Linked DNA regions of Homo sapiens: region 2 is linked to region 1. Evidence: fine-mapped expression QTL. Tissue or cell type: transverse colon. Region 1 holds a variant in brackets; the other region holds the start of a gene. All regions are shown on one strand. Distances are between the middles of the regions.

The links. PIP is the estimated chance that this variant, and not a neighbour inherited with it, causes the effect.
Region 2: OSBPL5 starts here. The variant in region 1 is fine-mapped to the expression of OSBPL5 in transverse colon (GTEx, PIP 0.97).

What each region holds. Positions count from the first base shown.
Region 1 is chr11:3,123,284-3,131,373 of GRCh38, forward strand. It overlaps OSBPL5 (oxysterol binding protein like 5), which reads right to left. Exons shown (of 22, transcript NM_020896.4): 2 at 5,730-5,886; 3 at 3,190-3,272. The coding sequence starts at 5,865. Among named protein-coding and RNA genes, the nearest start is that of OSBPL5, 38 kb to the right of the region's middle. RefSeq lists a silencer at 1,156-1,450. The variant G/A (reference allele first, on the strand shown) is at 3,490.
Region 2 is chr11:3,161,478-3,169,567 of GRCh38, forward strand. OSBPL5 (oxysterol binding protein like 5) reads right to left here and starts at 3,833. Exons shown (of 22, transcript NM_020896.4): 1 at 3,739-3,833. RefSeq lists enhancers at 1,878-2,571, 4,315-5,027.

The DNA.
Region 1 (8,090 bases):
CCGAATCCTGCCTGCTGCCTCCTTCCGCGTGGTCTGCAAGCTAAGAACAGCTTCCACAGTTTTAATCAGTTGAAAAAAAATCACAAGAATAATTTGTGAGATGTGAAAATTATATGAAATTCAAATGAGGAGTCCATAAATAAGGTTTTCTTGGCACATGGCCAGGCGATCCGGCAGGCGTTGTCTGTGGCTGTTCTCGTGCTTGGATGGCTGTGCTGAGTACCTGGAACGGAGCCTGCGCCGCGGCGGGGCCTAAATGCCGTCTGGCCTTTTCCAGAGAAAGCGTGCCCGCCCTGCCCTGCTCTGGCTGGGCGTCTGCGGGTGCTCAGCACTTTCCAGCGGAGCCTCTAGGGCGAGGAAAGCCTCCCTCAGGCCTTCTCCTGGCTAGAAGCCCTGGGCGCTGGGGACTGCCCCCACCCCAATCATGATGGTGCTAAGTACAGAGCTAAAGCCTTGTCTGCTGGGGCACCAGGTCCTGTTCGGGTGCTGCCTGTATTCATCCCCCTCATTCTCCAGCCATGCATAAGGTGGGGCCGGTTATTGTCCCTATTTTATTTCTGTGCCTGGGAAATCAAGGCACAGAGAGGTGGAGAGCTAGCAAGGGGCAGGGCATGGAACCGTTCCACGGACTGGCGGTCCTGGCAGCACTGGGCACCAGGCTTGGCCTTAGGCACTGAGGTTAGAAAGTAAAGATGCCAGTGTCCTGCTCTTTCAGGGAGAGGCAGACCAGCCACCAGCACGCAGAGGCGGGAGGAGCCAGGGGTCAGGTGAGCGCTGCGGTTCTGCGTTCTGTGCATGGATGTAAGCACGTTAGATCCCACAGCTCAGGTCATCGTTGTTATTCTCAGCATTGTACAGAGGAAGAGCCTACGCACAGAGAGGTTCAGAAACCTGCCCAAGGTCACACAGCTAATAAGGAGCTGAGCTGGGACTGAACCCAGGCAGTGTTGCTCCATTGTGGCACTTTCTTAGCCAAGTAAGAGCATTCAGGATCACAAGAAGAAAACGGCACAAGATGGGGTGCCTGGGGGGCTCTGACTTGGAAGCAGTCTTTGGGCTGACGATGAGTGATAAGGAGGAGGCAGATCTGAGTGACGAGGCATATGCTGGACCCTGGCCAGTTGACAGGCCTCCAGGGACCCAGGCTGGCAGAGAAGGTGTCCTAAGTTGCCCTCCTGGGAGTCCCCTGAGCCAGGATCTTGTTCATGATGCCCTTAGTTACCTTGGCACATGGTGTTCCCAGCCTGGAATGCTTTTCCCTGTGGCTGGGTAGCCCCTGCTCCTTTCTTTCTCAGGCTCCCTGAGCTGCTTCCCCAGAAGCAGGACAGCTCATATCCCTGCTGGCACAGGTCCTGGTGACACACACCACCCTTGGCCCGCCCAGGACTTTTGCAATACAACCACGCAGCCGTTTCTGTGGTGAACTGATGATTGTCTGTGGCTTCCACCAGGGGAGGGTTCTACCCTACTGCCCATTCACACCGGCAGCTGGGGGCTTAGCAAGCATCTCGAATGAATGAATGGATGAATGGATGGATGGATGGATGGATGGATGGACGCATGAACCTGCTGCCAATTCCCCTCTGCCCAGCTTCCCACTAGATGCAGCTGAATGGGGCTGTGTGTATTTGAGGCAACAGGGGAAGAGAGAGGCAAGACCGCATGGCATGGGATGGAGCACTTGCAACCCCTGCTCCCCAACTGGGCAGGACCCTTGGGTCTGGTCACTGCAGCCCCTGCAGCCCCAGCACTGCAGAGAGTGCCTGCCCACTCCTCCCTCCTGCAGGCCAGGTGGGTACCCCGTCCAGGCATGCCAGGTCCTCTGCTCACTCCTCAGTGCTACTGTGCATCAGTGACAGTGCCATAAGGAGGCACCTGAGAGATGAGAAGTGCTGCTCAGAACTGTGAACTTCAGGCTGACCAGAACTTTGCAACCTATGAAAATTCCTTAAAAATATAATTTAGAACCACCTACGGAATGGGAGGAAGTAGTCGCAAATCATGTATCGGATAAGGACCTAGTATCCAAAATGCATAAAGAACTCTTGCAGCTCAGCAACAAAAAGGCAAACAACCCATTCCAAAAATGGACAAATAACTGGAATAGACATTTCTCCAAACAGGACATACAAATGGCTAATGGGTGCACGAAGATGTTCAATGTTATCCGTCATTAGAGATGCAAACTGAAGCCGCAGTGAGATGCTACTTCATACCCGCTAGGATAGCTATAAAAATAACACAAAAAAGAACAAATCACGCCTGTAATCCCAGCACTTTGGGAGGCCGAGGCGGGTGGATCATGAGGTCAGGAGATCAAGGCCATCCTGGCTAACACGGTGAAACCCGTCTCTACTAAAAATACAAAAAAATTGGCCGGGCGTGGTGGCGGGCGCCTGTAGTCCCAGCTACTCGGGAGGCTGAGGCAGGGGCATGGTGTGAACCCGGGAGGCGGAGCTTGCAGTGAGCCGAGATCGCGCCACTGCACTCCAGCCTGGGTGACAGAGCGAGACTCCGTCTCAAAAAAAAAAAAAAAAAAATACAAAAAATTGGCCGGCCGTGGTGGCGGGCACCTGTAGTCCCAGCTCCTCGGGAGGCTGAGGCAGGAGAATGGCGTGAACTTGGGAGGCGGAGCTTGCAGTGAGCTGAGATTGTGCCACTGCACTCCAGCCTGGGTGACAGAGGGAGACTCCATTTCAAAGAAAAAGGAAAAAAGAAAACAACAAATCAGAAAATAGCAAGCGTTGGTGAGGATGTGAGGAACTGGAGCCCTTGTGCACTGTGGGTGGCCATGTAAGATGGTGCAGCCGCTGGGAAAGGAGTTTGGCAGTTCCTCCAAAAGTTAAACAGACAATTTTGAGAGTTCTATATTATCCTGGAATTACCATGTGACCTAGCAATTCCAATTACTCTAGGTTTATACCTGAGAGAACTGAAAACTGATAGTCAAATACACGTGCACACATGTTCACGGAAGCATTTTTCATGACAGCTATATGGTGAAAACAGCCCAAATATCCACCAGCAGCCCTCCCGGAGCAGCACAGTCTAGGATTGGGAGCTGTTTCCCCCGAACAGGCTGGAATGGCAGGCTCAGCTGGACGCCCTGCTGTCCTTTTCCCCAGCCGTTTCCTGCTGTCCCCAGAGCCAGGCTCTGGCTCATGGATCCTCCTATACCCAGGCTCTTACCGGTGGCACCTTCGTGGCAGAGCTTGGGGTCGGGGGCCCTTCATCCCTGGGCAGCGACGGGCCGTTGGGCTCCATGTCCTTCCCTGCAAGAGAGCAGTGGGAGTGAGGACCCAGGCATGGTGGCGTGGCCAGGCTTCTCAGGCCGCTGCCTGGTGTGAGGCAGGCGAAGCGTGGGTGCGGATGACCTGGGAGGGGCAGGAAGTCAGCCGGAGGTGGTGGCAGGAACAGGACACTGCCTGAGAGGTGTAATAAACGCCAGCAAGCGTCACTGTGGGAGGAGTGTGCCAGGAGAACTGGCAG[G/A]GCCTCCAGGACCTACAGGGAGGAAGCTGGGACAGGAGCTGGTAGGAACCGGCATCCTGGGCCTGCTGTAGTGTGCAATTGGGGGTCTGTGAAGGCCAGAGTCCCCAGTTTTCAGAAAAAGAATGTGACATCCAGTCTCAAAGACACATGGCAGGTTTGGGGCCCCTGGACTGTGCATCCCCCTGGCTGGATGCTGCCGGCCCCTGCGTGCTGGGCTCTTGCTGGGAGGTGGTCAGCCCTGTCTGCCATCCCACCCTGGCAGGCTGGGTAAGGAGGGAGAGGCAAAGGAGGGAGACCTGAGGTGTCTGCGTTTGCTCCTTTGGGAAATGGCCTCCCCTCCCCCGGCTCTGTTTGCTTTGGTGCCAGTTTCCCAAGGTACGATTTCTGGACAGGAGGAAGGAGGGGATGGCTGCAGGGGAAGCCTGAGGTCTGCCCAGCAGGGCCGCTCCCGCTGCTTCCTGTGGCTGGTGGGCGAGGGTTGACTGCCCCGGTCCCTGACACTGAGACTCGGAGGGGCTGGGGGCTGGAGTGAACCCCATCCTGCCAAGGCCACAGGCGACAGGCCAGCAACAGGCTGGGTGCGTGGACAGACGCCACAGACCAGCTGGAAGGCCTGGGGTCTATAGCCGTCCTTCCCTGACAGCCCTGGGCAGGGACTGGATGGGGACGAAGAACGGAAAAGCCAGGACGGTGGCCTGAGGAAGTGGTTCTGTCCAAAGGTCCTGGACCGTGGCCACTCACAGTCACAGAACATCGCTGACCCTGGCCGGCAGTGGCTGCTCCCCCACCTGGGAGCCTCTGCTTCCCCATCTGCAGAGTGCTACGCCCCTGACCCGGAGTGCTGGGGGGAGGCTAGCAGGAGCGCTCTTCCCTCTGGCACTTTCTCATATAGTTCTAGGGGCTTGGCCTGTGGCCGCCAGCAAACTACTTTCCATGTGGATGCTGCCTCCTGGCCGGGAGGACTCAAAGGCTGGGGCCCTTGGACCACTCAAAGGGATAGGGTGCAGGTGCCCTGGGCAGGGGGAAGTCAGCACTGGTCCTTCTCCTCACAGCCTGTCCACACCCACCCCACTCCCTTGGCCTGGGACCTACCGCCTCCATTCCTCGGAAAAGGCCCTTCCCAGCACGTCTTCTGCACCGCCTGGGCCAGTTGCTAGTTGGTCCGAGTCCCTCTGAAACTGACCAGCAGCTGGGACCCAGCCCTTCCCCTCCCCACCCCTGACTCTGCAAGTGCTTCTAAGCCTCCGGCCAGGGTGAACGTGACAGCAGAGAATAAAAGGTGTAGGATTTACCTTGCCGGGTGTCGAGTGCCCCTGCCTGCCATAGCACCTTCAGCAAGGCCACCTCTACGCTGGGACTCCGTTTTTCCATCTATTGGATGGGACTTTGGCTGCGACCACACGCCCCTCGAGCCTGGGTGGTGGATCCGCCCAATGCTCTCCCACTCCCCCCAGGGCAGATGAGATGACCATGGCCAGGCAGGGCTGGGGCTCCCACTTCCTCAGCCCCAAAGCAGGCAGTGGGAGGAGAGGGGGCAGAGCTGGGGAGAGGTCCCCCAGGCAGGTGCCTGCCCCTACCTCCTACTCTCAGGGGAACAGGGGAGGAAGGGCTGGGTTTTCTGGGGGACAGCAGTCACAGCTCAGCCTTGGCTGGGGCAGGGGTTGTGCATAGTTAGGTGCCAGGGAGGGGCCTGGAGAGTGGCAGCATTGGCGGGCAGAGGTTCTGAGTCTGTGTGCTGGGTGCTTTATCTACAATTGCACGAAGGCAGGCCTGGTTCCAGCTGTCCCCTCTCAGAGCCCAGGACCCATGTATAGCTGGGAGTAGGTACTAATATTGTCCCATTTTATAGATCAGTCAACTGAGGCCTAGAGAGGTCAAGTAGCTGGCCTGGGGTTACCCTGCCAGGACTGGGGCTCAGGCCACCTGTCCCTGGAGCCTGCACTCCATAACTCCCAAAGCCTGGGCTGACTTTGGGATGACTGCACTCCATAACTCCCAAAGCCTGGGCTGTGGGAACCCCCTCCTCAACCAGATGGGCTTCACCTGGCCCCGCAGGTCAAGCCAAGAAGCCGTATTACCTGGCACTCTACCAAGCTACAAACCGTTTGATCATGAAACCCACACAGTCCCCAGCATGGAAGCTGTGGACCTCAAGGGGCACAGAGGGGTTGGGCCGCCCGGGGTCACCCCACCGGGCCCAAGCTGAGGGCCAGGTTGCCCTGCCCACGGCCGGCACTTACCTGGGCTGAGTGGGTAGAGCTCATTGTCTCCGCTGAGGAGCAAGTTCCGGGTGAGCTTCCGGGGGTCGACTTTCTGAGGGGTGGAGGAAGGTGGACACAGGGAGAAGCGGCGCCGGAGGAAGGCCTCCTCCTTCATGCTGTGGGCGCTCGGGGGCTTCTGGAAGGAAGGAAGGAGGGGCAGCAGGAGGTCACCGCCCCGGAAGGGGCTTCAGAGCCACATGGTGGGGGTGCCCCTGGCTAAGAAGTCCCCCTCTCAGGGGACTTCTGAGGCAGGGTGAGGAGGGCCTGGGCCCTGGGAGCCTGGTGGTGGGTGGTCAGCCAGGACAGCCCAGCTCAGGCGAATGGCTTTGGCTGGTGCCAGCCCTTTCCACGCCGGGCAGTAGGGCTGGACGGAGCCCTGGTCAGAGAGGCTCATCACCACCCTCGGAAGATGTCCTTCTCAGAACCCCCACCCCAGGTTCTGTGAGACCCTGGCTGCAGCCAGGCAGACCCACGTGTAGACACAGGTTTTCCCTCCCGCATTTCCCTCCCACGTGACAGCACTTTGTGGTGGGGAGGGGTCTAGAGCTTCCATGGAGAAGATGCACGGGGGTGAGACCAGGTGGCCGCTGAGCACCAGGGAGTGGCTGGCACGGTGTTGGGCAGTCCGGGAGCCTGGCCTGCCATCCATCTAAGGGTCCCAGGAGCGCCTCGCCTCTGGTTAAGCCCGCCTGAAGCTTGGGTGCCCCAACAGTTTCAGTTGCACCCACATGCACCCCAGCAAGAGAGGGAGCTCTGGGCGCTCACAGCCAGGCACACCTGCGTCCACGCCCAGCCCAAGACGTTGCATTCCCAGTGGGAGCTTCCTTGCTGCTTCACAAAAGAGGGAGGCCCCACAGCCAGGCCCTGACACCCACCTGCCTCGCTCTCCCAGCCCCGCCCACTGGCAGACCTGCCTTTCCCCTGTGGGTTCAGAAGCGAGTTTCTTGTTTCCTCCCCTGGAAGGAGAGAGGACAACAGGCGGTCCCCTCTGTCCTGCTCCCCACCAGCCCTACACCTAGTAGTGCTGGGCCAAGCAGAGGGTAACTGATTGCAGTCACGCCTTTGCAGGCACTTGAAGTTGACGGCGCCAGATCCACTGAGGTCTCAGCCCATTTTACAGATGAGAAAATCATGGCTCAGGGAGTGGAAGGCCTCGACCTGTAATCGTGACCTGACAAGGGTTGGCAGAGCATCCCCTCCAGCTTCTCATCTTGTGTCCACTTCCCAAGGGCGAGCTCCTTAAAAACTACTGGTCAATTTTCCTCCTTTCCCAATTTTCTGGGGCTGCTTCCTGCTGCCTCAGGGCAGGCCAGTGGCATCCTGCCAAGCCCGGGACAAAGGCCTCGATTTCTCCCATGGTCCTGGGCTTTGCTGGGGGGGGCCTCAGACACACAGAGACTTTCCTGCTGTGGCTTCAGGAGTGGGCTGGGGGCCCAGGGTGTCTGTGGTCCTGGGGGCTTCTGTCCACCACCCCAGAGCCCCCTCTGTGCCCCCAGTCCTGAAGTCAGAGTGGGGAGGGGCTCCAAGGATGCAGCCAGGCTGGGCCAGCCCCTCCCTCACCTGGCCCCTGGCTCGGCTCATGACCTTGGCCATCTTACACACAGGGCAGCTGGCTTCAGAGAGGCTGGCGTTTTGGCCCAGGTCACAGAGCTAACAATCAGCAATGCCGTCCTTAAGCCAGGTGGAACCGATCCTAAAACCCAGCCGCTGAGTGTCTGCCCACTCAGTGTCTCAGCTTGGCTCAGCCAACCTGCCGCAGGGAAGCAGGCAGATGGGAAGTCCTGCCCCTACTTGTCAATCACAACAAACACGTCCTACTTGCCCAGGTGCAGCTCAGGATGGGAACCAGCAGCTGAGCGGAGGCCGGGCTTACTCAGACAGCTGAGATTTTCTGAGCACCCAGGCTGGGCTGGGCACCAGGCAGCCAAGGTAAGTGAGCAGCGATCCTGCTCTCAGGACCCACAGAGAGCCCCGGAATGTCCCAGGCAGTGTGGTGACAGCGATTCCCAGGTAGGTCTCCCTCACTTGGAACCTCCTGGGGCAGGGAGAGGGGCTCAAAACCTAGCCTCAGCTGCCCTGTCTGGCTGTCTGCTCCAGTTCCACCTGGGCCAAGGTAGAAAGGCCATAGGGGATCTTGGTACCTTTCTGCTCAGATACCCCACATACCTTCTCCCAGCACCAATGACAGCCAGTGGGACTTCTTAGTCTGTGAGTGCCACCATCCACTCATCTATACACCAGTCTCATCTATACACCAGTCTCCCGCTCCCTTGTATCCCTCCATCTATACATACATACATCTCCCTTCCAGGCATCCATCCATCCATCCATCCACCCACC
Region 2 (8,090 bases), 38 kb after region 1:
AATCTACTGACCTCCCTGGGATGAGACAGTATGACGGCTTTCCACATGTGCCTCACTTAACCGTAGAACACCTACTGTGTGCCAGCCCCTGGGAAGAGAGCCCGGAGCAGACTTGCAGGCAACCGTGCATGGGGACAGACACCGCGCACCAGCGGCACCCACCAGGGACAGATGCCACGCACCAGCGGCGCCCACCATGAACCTGGCTTGGCCCAATCGCTTTCTCCATAGGAAGCCATTCAATTAAACAAACATGACCATTTCAGTATAAATAAAGAGAAAACAAAACACAGAGCTGAGAGCTGCTTTGGAATGGGTAACGGGCCAGGAACAGAGACTCTCTCAGAGAGGCAGCATCTGAGCTGGGACCTGAATTAGATGGAGCCCACCAAATGCAGATCCAAGGAGGGGCCGAAAGCAGAGGCACAGGCAGTGCAAAGGCCCTGGAGTAAGAAGCCGGGGCTGACGCCAGACCCCTGTGAGCAAGGAGGGGAGAGGGAGGGGAGGGGAGGGGGAGAGGAGAACAAGGGAAGGGAGACAGAGTGGAGGGGCATCTAGGGCCTGTGGGGTCTGGAAAGGGGTCAGGACTTACTGAGACCCATGGCAAATCTCAAAGGGCTCTAAGTGGTCAAATTACATGAAGTGGTTTATCTTTTTAAACACCATGCTGGCTGCTGGCTGGAGAAGGGCTAGGAAGGCCACGAAAGGGGAGCCTACTAGGTAGCTGATGTGGAGCTCCAGGCAAGAGCTGGTAGGGCCAGGAGGGGAGTGGAGGCCAGCCCTGGAGGGAGTAGCCGGATGTGAGGTGGGCTGGGAGGCCGAGCAAAGCATTTGCTCTCAGCCTGGGTGGCTCTGAGATTTGCAACAAAGGCCCTCTAGGAATTCTGGATCCCTCTAAGCCAGCCAAGAAGGCTCATGTCCCACCCCCTCCCCATCTCCCACCTCAAGCCCTGGTCCTGAGGACACAGCTGGTGCCCACTCCGCTTAGTGTAGATGCCAGCACAAGGCAATCTCACATCCTCGTGGACATGATCCCAGAGGCCCTGGCTCAGAACAACTGTGATGCTAAGAGAACAACGCGGTCCTTAGTCCAAGTCCTTTGTACTCGACCGCCAACCCTACCACTCTCCGGAGCAGCTTCACTATCTGCCCATACATCTCCACGGGAAAGGTTACCCAGCCGTGGCCAAGACCCAGCCACCAAGGCCCCAAAACCTTTAAAAATCTTGACCAGCCCAGGAGCCCCATCCTCAGGCTGTCAGTTGCCTCCTCAAGCTGCAGGCTCGGTAAGTCATCAAGCAAAGCTGGCATCGAGAACAATATTCTTTTCCTTTGTGCCGGTCACAAGCAGCATGAGGACATCCAGGGCAGCATGCCTGTCCCTGTCGGGAGGCCAGTGGCCCTCACTTGTACCCCCCAACATCTACCCCCCAGCACACTGGTGCACTCCCTGGGCTCCCCTGCCAACCCTGCAAGTGGTGGGCACTTCTACCCACCTGGCCCTTGGACTCCACAAGGGGAGCTGCACCTAACGGCTCCCTCCCCGACAGCTCCCTTCCTGTCAAAATGACCGGGATCCTTTTGGCACTGTGCAACCCTGGGCCTCGGCCCCTCTACAACCCCCTGTCCCGGAGGTCAGAGCTTCCAGCTCCCCAGGCCTCTCCGGGAGAACCCTGAGCTGGGTCCACAACATTTCTCAGCTGCGGTCACAGGCTCAGATTCACCTGTCCCTTGAACAATAAATGGGAATGGGGGCGGGGGGCACCTTCTGTCATCTTGGGTAAGTTTTCCACCTGCACACTGTGCCTGTATGTGTGCAAACGTGTGCAGGCTTAACCACAGAATCAGCAGAGAGCACCAGTCCCCAAAACACAGCTGGCAGAGACACACACAGCCCTTCCACCCGCCGGCTTGTCACAGAGTGTTTCTCCCTCCCCCAAGCGTTACATGTCAGATTACTATCAGCGCTCAGAGTGAGGCCAGGATCTCAGGAGAGAAACTGATACCAGGCATTCTCAGCATAGTAAATACAATCCTGGGTAGGGGTTGGGTGGGGGGGGCGGTCTTGCGTTGGTATTCTGTAAAGAGCTGAAAGCAGTCCTTTGAAGAACATGGCCTATTCATGGCCCAATCTGGACCCAGAAAGGAGCCTCCACTGGACATGCAGGATGGCTGCCCGGGGTTCGACATCTGCAGGGCAGCCTCTCTGAGACCAGGCCCAGGACTGCAGGTCAGAGGCTCCTCATCCGGCCTATCTGCTGTGTCACCTTTCTTAAACACAGCCTGGCAAGACAGACACACGCGGTGCCTGCCTCCTGGCACCCCAGGCCAGCCCCACACGCGTGCAGGCAGACAATAGGATCTGCAGTTCTGGAGCCTGAGACCAGAAGGGAGCAGCTGGGCACATGATGCCACCCCAGGTTGCCACAAACCTGCCCGATGCCTGCAAAGCCCCCACTCACCTGGCAGGTTCAAGGAACAGCAAGGCCCTGTGTACCAAGGAGGTGGGATAAAAACGTGCAGAGGGGCCTTACTCCTGGGGTTGGGGAGCAGAGTTTCTGTTCAGTCTGGGATCTGGATCAGCCCTGGTGCAGGCAGACCCAAGAGCATCTATCTAGGATCCCAAAGGCTGGCCCACTTCTCCAGGCTTTGGGAGGCTGTATCAGGTGGGGTGGGACCCTTACAGAAGTCTTCCTGTAAAAGGCACCTTGAAGAGACTGGGGCAGACACACAGAGGGGAGCAAGTTGCGAAACGGCAAGAGAGGAAATCCACCCAGCCGCTTCGGCGGGGCAGACCCGCTCAGCCCAAGGATGAGGGAGGGGCTGGGCTCAGCCCAGGGACGAGGGAGGGGCAGGTAAGCCCACCCTGTGACCCCTCCATACCCCCAGGAGTCACCCCAAACCCTAACTCCAGTTGGCTTCTGACAGGAGGCAGCCCAGCGGTCTGGGTGGGGGTTGGGGGCGGTGCCTGGGAAGCCCAGGACGGGCCTGTTGCCCGGGGGGCTGCAGACTCCAGCCTCCTTCCTGCCTGCCCCACCCTCCTGCACCCCGCTCCCCGGGAGGAATCTTCAAGTGCACAAGACCCTCTTGAGGACTCAGGCACCTCAACAATCCCTAAGGCTCCACATCTTCAGGGGGTCAGTGCCCCAGAGATGGGGGCTGTGGGCAAGGTCCTTCCCTAGCCTGTAATCCAGGCAGCCCCCTGACTCTGCGGACTCAGACACAGCAGTCCTCCCAAGCCCGCAGCTGGGACGCCAGACTCAGATCCCAGACCCCCTGCAGACCCATCAAGACCTGGCTCCTTGGAGCCCGCGTCGGCCGAGCTGGGGGGACAGACCCCCTGATTGGCCAGGGTTTGTGGTGGTCAGACCCAGCCACCTTCCCTGGCGGTCCCGGCTCCTTTAAGCCCCACCAAGTGGGGAGCCGAGCTGGGCGCGCCGCTTCCCACTCGCGGGCCCCACCCGCCCCAACCCGCCAGGCGCCGACCCGTCCTGGCCCGGGGCGCCCCCAGGCTCCCGCGCTCCCCAGCTCCCCAGCGCGCGACCGGCCCCGCGGCGTGGTTCCCCGCACTGGCTACTGCCAGGGTCCGCGGGGCTGCGGCGCGAGCTCCTGGATCCCTTCGGCCGGCCCCCCGCGGCCCTCGGTTCGCTCCGGCCCTGCCCGGCGGGGCCCTCCGGATCCTTCCCAGCCCGCCATCCCCCCGCCGCCCTGCCGCCCCCCGGGCCGCCGCGCTCCTACCTCCTACCGTGCCGCGAGCTCGGTGCTCCGGGCCGGCCGGGCGCGCGGGGGCTCCACTGGCGGCGCGGGCCTGGCTGCAGGAAATGCCAGCAGATGGTCCCCCCGCGCGAGGCGGAGCGAGGGCGCGGCGGAGGGAGGAGGCCCAGGGAGCCCGGAGGCGGGAGGAGGAGGCGCGGCGGCCGCAAAACCCGGGCCGAATCGCCGCGCGGAGCGGGCGCCCAGGGGCTGCCCCCCACCGGCTGCCGCTTCTCCTCATCCCCCAACCCCCCGCGCGCGCTCCGGGGCTCACACCCACCCGGGCGGCCAGAGGTCGGGACACTCCGCTGAAAATGGCCAGGAGGCTTGGCGGGGTGGGCAGCGGTGAGTGGGGTCAGCTTCGTGGGGTTCTCCAACTTAGGGGTGCAGGCCCCCAGCCCACCCTAGCCAGGGTGCGAGGCGCCTCCTCTCCCTTCCTGAACCCAGGAAACTGTCGCCGTTTCTCCCCGTCTCAGGAGCCATCAGAACACAAGAGGAGCCCCAGACATCTGAGCCCGTTGTCCCTGCCCCTTATGTGCTAAGAAGGACCCTCAGTCACACTCTAACTGTACGTCTTTCTCAGGACCCTTTTGACAAGAACCTCCCCTCATGTGCATTTCTTCCTGTGTTTTCTCCTCACCTTCTTCTACCCCCCAGAGACCTTTTTAGACCCCTCAGTTCTCTTGTATATAAAAGACATTCTAATTCCCCTAAACAGCATCCCCTTGGGAGCTGAGAAGTCCTCCCCTGGCCCCTGGCTCCCTGCCTGTAGACCCTAAATTGGGTGTGGGCCCAGGGCTGGCCCCAGGGCGTTTGCATCCCTAGTGTCCAAGCCTGAGGTGCACTGCAGGTCCTTCCTATGGTATGTCCCCAAATGACCAGAAAAACTGGGAGCTGGGCTCGGGCATCCCCAGATGTAGGTAGACCCCAAGAGGGCGTGGAGTCTTTTCCACACAGAACCTTAACAGGGACAGAACTGACCCTCCGCAGAGAGCCCTGGGCTCCTCCCCAGGCAGAACTGCCACTGACACGTGTGTTTCTACGGTTTCACGCTGCAGTTGCATTCGGGAGGCCGCAAGCCTGGCTATCATGGGCGTCTGCAAGACCTCCCAGCAGGGCTGCGGAGGGCGAGCGGCCCAGGAAGGCTCCTTCCAGCACCTGAAGGGGGAACGGCACAGCATGCAGGTGCTCTGCCCACAACAAGCCAGACCCCTTCCCGTCTCAGCCCTGGCCTTGCCCACCCCGTTAGACAAGTTGGTGGGTATCCTCCTGGGGATAGCAGCACCAGCCGCTTGTGTGCGGATCACAGGAACCCACGGCTTACGGAGGCGAGTGGGCTGATCGGACTTGCCCTAAGCTTACCCCCAGGGCTAGCATTGCCATTCCATAGTCACCTTGTGAGGCCTTGGGATGCAGAACTGCTCAGTCAAGATGCTCAGGGCCATGGTGGGACCCTGCTCCGCGTGGCCTGTGGCAGGCGGCCTCTGCCTCTGCAGGAGAGGGTCTGTGCAGCTGGGATCCACATACAACTGCTGGGTCTGCTCTTTGAAGACTCCGCCCAAAGCTGAGGTGCTGCTGCCTGGTAACTTGCTGGTTGCTGGAGCCAATCCAAAGGGAATTAGGGAAGAAAACAAAGCCCCTATCCCTAGGGCGGAGGTCTCAGGGGCGGCAGTAGGGAAGGTTGCCAGTTGCTTGATGCTGGCTGTCCAGGGCCTGGGTTTCATGAAATGACACTGCTGAGGGCAGAGGTCAAAAGTCAAAGAGGCACCTGAGGGTGGGGGAAGGGGCCATAGATGACAGCAGGGTGGGGCTGGGGTGGAGCAGGACGAGGGTTGAGCCTCTCACTGGGTAGTGTCTGACAGCCAGATGGCCATGCAAGAAATGAAGAACACGCCACCTGCCAGGCTCAGTGACAGGTGTCAGTTGTCTGCCCCACTTCCCAGCAGGCTCTGCATTTTTCCAGAAAGCCCCATTTCCAGCCTCTTGCCTGGTTTTGGAGAGGCAGTGAGCCGAAGAGGTTGCCCCCAGCAAGAGGTAGGTCCGAATCCTGCTGCTGCCAGAAAGAAGCTCTGTCACCAGGCAGTGGCTTGTTCCTCCTGGGACCCCGCTTCCTCTCCTGTCAGATGGACACAGCATCTGTGCCTGGTGGCCAACGCAGGAAATGAAGGCGTCAGAGGTCTCAGAGATGGGCAGAGCCAGGTGCCAATGGCACCAGCTTTAGGGGGGCACGCCCAGTAGGCCCCACCATCCAGGAGCCCTTGAGCAGGTTTGTGCAACTGGCCGTGCCTCAGTTTCCTCATCTATAAATGGCGATGACCAGAGCAGTTTCCGCTGCATGAGCTGCCATAAGTCCCCAGTGGGCCAACAGACTTTGCAAGCGCTGGCTGTTGGTGGGCACTGGGGACCATGAGTGGACTATGGGAAGGAACGGCTTGCAGCGCCCAGCTGGTTAGTTTGGAATTTATGGTAATTCAGAAAAATATGTCTGTGATAAGTAAGAACTTAAAAAATGCTTTGCAAGGACAGTGCAATTTAAAATCAGGGCAGTTCCAATCCAAGTCTCCAGAATGGCAGTTCTCTGCTAGGGGCGGTTTTGCCTCCAGTTTCCAGGTGGCATTTGCCACTGCCTGGAGATAGTTCTGGCCGTCGTCATTGGAGGTTGCTACTGGTGTCTAGTGGGTAGAGGCCGAGGATGTTGCTAAACACGTTGTCATGCACGGGACAGCCTCCACCACAAAGGGTGACCCGGCCCCAAATGCTGGTCATGCTGAGGTCAAGAATCCCTGCCCCAGAAGTGAATACATGTCCACCTGCTGGCATCACTCCTTGGTTTCGGGTGGTTGGTCTAAGCCCCCAAGGCCTCCTGCTGATGGAGCCCCTACCCTGTCCCAGGTTCTTTGCATCTCATCTACTTCTCCTGACCCCGACTGAGGGGTGAATAAGATGGCTGTGGGCACCTTTCTCGTGTCAGACCCTTTTCTGAGGGCTTTAGACACTTGGTGCATTTAATCTGCCTCACAACTTTATGAGCTGGTTCTGTCGTGATTGGCTCCATTTCACAGATGGGGAAGCTGAGGCACAGCAGGCGAGGCAGTCACCAACCTCTCTGGCTCCAGAACTGTGCTCTGATCTGCCGTGCTCTGCCACCTGGTTCATAATGAAGACCCACCGGCTCAGAGGAAACCCCCCCGCAAAAGCCCCTGCCCCTTCTGCTACATCTGGCTGCCTCCCTGGGAAGGGCTGGGGTGGCCAGGACATGTGGGAACAGCGCTGGGCCCAATCCAGAGAAGGTGCCACCAACCGGGGAAGCCTTGCTCAGGGCTTCAGCCACTACAGGAGCCAGTGGGGCTGGGTGTGGCCCCCTAGGGAGAGACCTTAAGCAGGTCAGGGCCGGCAAACTGTCATCGGTTATCTCCTTTGGTCCTTTACAGCCTTTTTTTTTTTTTTTTTTTTTTTTTTTTTGAGACGGAGTCTCACTCTGTCGCTCAGGATGGAGTGCAGTGGCACAACCTCGGCTCACTGCAACCTCCGCTCTCCAAGTTCAAGCGATTCTCCTGCCTCAGGCTCCTGAGTAGCTGAGATTACAGGTGCCCGCCACCACACCCGGCTACTTTTTGTATTTTTTGTAGAGATGGGGTTTCACCATCTTGGCCAGGCTGGTCTTGAACTCCTGACCTTGTGATCGACCCTCCTCGGACTCCCAAAGTGCTGGGATTACGGGCATGAGCCACCGCGCCCGGCCCTTTTCAGTCTTCTGAGGTAGCAATAACCACTTCTCTCCATTAGACAGATGAGGAAACCGAGGCCCCAGTAGTAAGGGGTGCACCTGGACTTTGGTGGGTCTCCGACTCCTAGTGGGACACCTGCCCGGTTTCCCTGGGCTGCAGTGGGGAGACCCAGGGGTGAGCCTGGGCTCTGCTGCCCTCCCTGCTGCCCTGAAGGCACATCCACCGCCAGGTGTGGTCTCTGGTGGGAGCCCATTCTGTTTCCTTTCCGGGCAGGGGGAGGAGATTCCATCTCCCGTAGGCGGTGGGGCGTCAGTGAAACTCAAAGCGTCCAGATAGTCTCCACAGCACAAAGCTAATCATGAAAACATCGCAGCATGTATGGACCGTTTGCCATGCGCCTGGCACTACGTCCTCAACTTCACGTGACCGGATTGCATCCCCCGCACTGCCGGCAAGCCTGTGGTTATCAGTATCCCCAGCTTACAGACGCCGAAGTGGAAAGTCAAGGAGGTGAAGCCACCAGCTCCAGGCTGGCCACTGGGGAGCGTCCCAGGCAGGACTGGAAGCCAAGCTAGCGTTCCGGTTACAGGAGGCAGGCTCTCCCCGCTG